2 separate regions of the Homo sapiens genome follow, and region 2 is linked to region 1. Evidence: fine-mapped expression QTL. A gene starts in region 1. The other region holds a variant in brackets. All regions are shown on one strand. Distances are from middle to middle.

Region 1 (2,867 bases):
GCTGGGATTACAGGCGTGAGCCACCGCGCCCGACCGGAAAGCACTTTTAAAAGCATAAAATGCCATACACCATACAAATGCAAGAAGTTAGTAAATTCTGAGTTTGTTAAATTATTGTTCACTATTAAGATTTATTAAAAATAATGTTCTTTGGGGGAAACTTTTAAATTTTAAAAGTTTTTAGAATTAAAAGTCAGGATGCAGAGATTTCTCTTTTAGGCCCCAAATTAATCGAAAAAATATTTCACTAGTATATTTGCTTCAGAGAAATAGAAGTGAACTTTCACAAGTCATTAATCTATTGCTCAAAATAAAATGATCACACACAAACCGAAAATCAAAGCTTCAAACATACACACACCGAAAATCAAAGCTTCAAACCAATCTTTAGCGGCTGCATATCACTAGTTGCCTGGGGTTGGGAGAGAATGACTGCAAAGGGAAAGGAAGCTTTTTAGAATGATGGAAATGGTTTATGTCTTAACATGGATGAATACATTTTTCAAAACTCATCAAAATGTACATTTTAGATAGGCACAATTTACGTATGTACATTACACCTCAATAAAGTTTTAAATATTTAGAAGTCTATCCTGTTTCCTTAAAAAAAAAATTAGTTGCACCATGGTCTCAAAAATAATTTTTAAAATGAGATGTAATGCAACAGACTTGAAGATTAAATAAAACAGTCTTGAATATTTAAGAAAAATGACAAAACATGAGTCAAAAACAAAAAAAAAGGGTTGATTTATGAGTTTCTGGCCTCAAGGTCAACTCAGATTAGGGGGAAAAAAAAACAGTGGAGGCATAATCAAGATGGGGAAGCGTGTGGAGAGAAATCTCAGCTTCTACTCTAGAAGACGAAAACCAAAACCGGTATTACTTCAGAAGGCACACTGGAAAAGCACAGATGTGGGTGCACTTCAGACCTAGGTTCAACGGATCTAAGCTGCTAACTCTATGGCCCTGAGAGTCCTCAACCTGTGAGCCTCAGTTTCCCTTTCTGTAAAATAAAGATAATGATGGCTTAGAGTTTAGCTGAGCACACAGCAAATGCTCGACACATAAGTAATACATGATATTACATAAGGCACCAGAACTCGGAGCTGACTGGAAATGCATGCAAACTAAAGCCCTCCCCCAATCCCACCCCAGTTTCCCTCTGAGGGTCGTGATCCCTTTCTTACGCCTTATCGCCCCCAGCCAAGCCTCCCTTCCTTCCCACATACACTCCACACAGCCTTTTCACCCCTCGCCCCAGCAGCTTCAGAGGCCTCCCACCTCCCAGGCCCCACCTCGTTGAGGAAGCGGGTGACATCGTAGACTCGCCCATGGATCACAAGCCACAGTTCCTTCAAGGAGTTGCGCTTTGCCACCTCCTCCAACCGGTAATAGGTGACTGAGGTCTCGACTTCCTGCCCTTTCCCATCGCTGCCGCTAGCTTCCGCAGTCGCCATTGAACCGGACATACTGCCTCTCCACCGCTAACTGAGATTCCGCGACTACTTTCCTTGAGAGCCCGCGCTCAGCCTTCCTCGGCTTCCGTAACCAGGGCCCATAAGGCCTTGAGACGGTTCCTAGCAACAGCCAATCACACTTCCGAATAGTTCCTGGTTCGTTTTCTTTTCACCAATGAAGGGAGTGGCTCAGTTCGAAATCCCGCCCACTCCTCGCCCGATCCTCCAGATGAAAGTCTGGTTCGAGGTCCAACTAACCAATTAGGGTCGTTCAGCCCCCTCCAACCTCGCCAATCAGATACCGCGATTTTTGGACTGGCGCCCAAAAGAGGCGTGCTGACAGGTGTCACTTCAGGAGAGGTACCACTTCTCTCAGCCTGTGGGCCTTTAGGGTCTCCAGTGTTCTGCTTCCCTTCCCATCGCTGTGGCTTTCTCCTGAGTCTCAGAAAGTTCCTATCCCCTACACTACCGGCGCAGCCTGTATCCCAACCCTGATTTTACATCTTTGCTGCCTCCAGGTCGTGATCTGGCCAATCCCGTCTCTCCTCAATTTCCCCATCAGTAAAATGGGCTTGATAAAGCACTCTCTTACAGAGGGGTTTGCCTTTTTTTTTTTTTTTTTTTTTTTTGAGACAAGTTCTCGCTCTGTCTCCTAGGCCAGAGTGCAGTGGCACGATCTCGGCTTACTGCAAACTCCGCCTCCCAGGTTCAAGCGATTCTCCTACCTCAGCCTCTCGACTAGCTGGAACTACAGGCATGCGCCACCACGCCCGGCTAATTTTTGTATTTTTAGTAGAGAGTAGGTTTCACCATGTTGGCCAGGCTGGTCTCGAACTCCTGACCTCAGGTGATCCGCCTGCGTAGGCCTCCCAAAGTGCTGGGATTACAGGCGTGAGCCACCGCGCCTGGCCCGGTTTGCCTATTTTAATGAGAGTGCCTGTAAAGCGCTTGGCGCATAGTAATCGCTAAACATGGCAGTCGATTAGAAAGGCAATTGCTGTCCCGGACAGCAATTGGGGGTAGAATGTGGAGTATCCTATGTTTCTACCATCATTCAGAATCCGATTTTCAAACGAATTCTGTGATGATCAGGATCAATCGGCACTATTTTAGTCTCTACGTGATCTAAAATAGAATTGAACTCAACTGCTCTCCGCTAGAGGTCCCAGCACTTTGGAATTCCAAGTTTGGTTAAGGTACAGTGTTGTGCGCCACTTTTTAACTGCCATTACAACTGACAGATTGCTCTTCCTATGATGTCGTCGTTTTCATCCTGTCACTCTCGCAGTCTACCATTCAGGGCTCTCCACAATCCATTCGCAACCTCTTTCACTAACGTATAATATTTTCCACCATTCCCTTTATAAGCCTGTTGCACCCGCCCCGACTCTGAAACCTGCTGGTTTAAAA
Region 2 (2,500 bases), 38 kb before region 1:
ATGGTCCTTCTTGAACCAAGCTGCTCCCTGCTGGATATGACAATGGCTCAGAAGCAGACTAGCAATTCTCAAAGGACAGGGAGAAAAATCACCACAGTTGCTGGCAGAAAACAGCCAGTGTACTATTTATTTCCTCAAGTGCTTCCATGGGGGAAAAAATAAAAGTCTAATATGCCAGAGAAATCATCATTGAACCAATAAGACACAGTAACATAATTCTAGTAACCTACTTCTCAATGAACACACATCTGAGAAAAAAACCGCCAGTATTTTATTCTCATGGAAAAACAGAACAAACCCACAAGTTGGAGTCACGGAGATAAAATACAGATGAAATGGAAAACGGTCTGTTGTCATGAACTCTCACTTTCAAATACCATTTTATATGGAAGTTACTTTACTGCGGGGCAAACAGAAGGCCATGCTGGAGTCTCTTACTTTTGGAAAATGGAGAATCAAAAATTTGCTAATCAACAAACAAAAAAGGAGGGAAACTCCTTGGTAAAGCTCTACAAACATAATTATACATTTATATTTTACCAATAAAAGATAGCTAGGGTAGAAAAAACAGATGGTTAGAAACTGGTGCCAAACCAAAGTGAAAGCTTTGGTGCCTTCTCTAAACTCCTATCCTGTTTCTTTAGAAAACACCAGTTTTCTAAAGAAAGATTACTCTGAATTCACCAGGGTTCTATCACCCCAATTCATCCCTACCTTTCCACCCCCAAGACACGAAAGGGCCATGTAGTTTTTTGTCCGGCACCACTTGGGAAGGGGCTGGGCTCAGGGGCTGGGAAGAGCTACCTGCTGCCCTAGCTTGAAAGGGAGGAGGTGGCCACACCATTCTTTGTATTTTTATCACGCACATAAAAGAACAAAAATCATTTGGCAGTTTTAAGTTTAATAGGTGCAAACCTTTACTTCAGGAATTAAACCCCTTATGATAAATAAAAGAATTAAATCAGATTTTTTTTTAATACAGATAGGGGTCTCGCTATGTTGCCCAGGCTGGTCTTGAACTCTTGGCCTCAAGCGATCTTCCCACCTTGGCCTCCCAAAGTGCCAGGATTACAGGCCTGAGCCACCACACCTAGCCCTAAATCAGAATTTTTTAAAAAAAATTTACTTAAAAGAAAAATGGAAAAATAAAACTTTCAACACTAGACTGCCGCCCTGTTAAGAATGTCTAATATGCAA[TCAAA/A]GTATTGGAAAGCAGGCATTTTTACCAAAGAGCAATGTCACTATAACTTATGAACAGAAAGTTGTGAAATATAAGGGTACTCATGGAAACCAGTGAAGAGAGGAAACACCGGCAATTGTTCAACACGGAACAGTGAGCAGGTACTTTGGGAGTAAGGCTCTGAGAGATGGAAGACGCTGGTCTCAGATCTGAGGTGATGTCTGGCCAATCGTCTTGGCTCCAAGGGGGAAGAATGCAACTGGCAGGATTCGAGGAGAGGGCACTTCTGCAGCCCCCAAGCAAGTCTCTAGTTTTCGCCCCAAAGTGGATGCACTTTCTAACTTCAGCAAGGCCTCCTCAGGAGGATTTGCTTTCCGATGTGTAGTAGCGGTACAGGAAACCTAAGAGAACAGCGCCTATGATGGGTAAAATCCAATATGCCCAGCAACTAGGAATAGGGGGAGAAAGCAATAAAGTTGTTAATATTTTAAGCCAAATGTTCACTATCTTTCAGCTTTCACATGTTTTTATATAGGCAAGGAGTTTTTATTTACTTTGGGAAATTTAACTGCTTTTATCACAAAGTAGTTGGGGAAAAATATTTGAATTGGAGTGACAATATTACAAAGTAATTTTTTAAAAGGTTAAAAACAACCAATAGTATGATATCAAATAAGATGTCTTTAAATGCCTCTATATGTGTTTCTACAAAGTCATATAGTGGTTATTTCTGAGTTAGGGATTATGGATACTCTCACATTTTCTTCATTGTGCTTTTGCTTTTCACGTATTCTACAATTAAACATTTTTAAACAGGAAAAAACACCATTATGTATGTGACATTTCATATATGTATAAAAACATATCCATCCCAATATAAATTTGGAAGTAATCATATCTAATATAACTACCAGAAATATCCTATCTGCTTCATATGTATTTTAAAGATTTAATCCTTATGAAATAGGATAACCTACGAAATAGGGTTATTATTCTCATCTCATACAAGGGAAATATAAGCTTTGCACCCCAAATCCCAAAGCTAGAAAGGCAGCTGGACAGTCTGATTCCAAACCCATCCTCTTAATCCCTAGTTAAGTTTGGACACTAATAAGGATACACATACACACAAAGCATATACAGTTCTAACAGGGTGAAGCAAATGGCAGCTTCAAAAGTACTGCAAGAGACCTTCCTTAGGAGCTTCAGAACAGTCATCATTCTCCTTAACATAATAATTCTTTAATAGAACTTATTAGCACACTAGTTTTAAGGTATAATTCTTCCATGATCCAAATGACCCGGCTGCCCCTCTACTTA

The links.
Region 2: its variant is fine-mapped to the expression of CYB5B in sun-exposed skin (GTEx, PIP above 0.99).

What each region holds. Positions count from the first base shown.
Region 1 is chr16:69,423,286-69,426,152 of GRCh38, reverse strand. CYB5B (cytochrome b5 type B) reads right to left here and starts at 1,534. Exons shown (of 5, transcript NM_030579.3): 1 at 1,296-1,534. The coding sequence starts at 1,469. RefSeq lists enhancers at 1,156-1,703, 1,704-2,251.
Region 2 is chr16:69,461,558-69,464,057 of GRCh38, reverse strand. CYB5B (cytochrome b5 type B) reads right to left here. Exons shown (of 5, transcript NM_030579.3): 5 at 1-1,628. The coding sequence ends at 1,538. Among named protein-coding and RNA genes, the nearest start is that of CYB5B, 38 kb to the right of the region's middle. The variant TCAAA/A (reference allele first, on the strand shown) is at 1,198.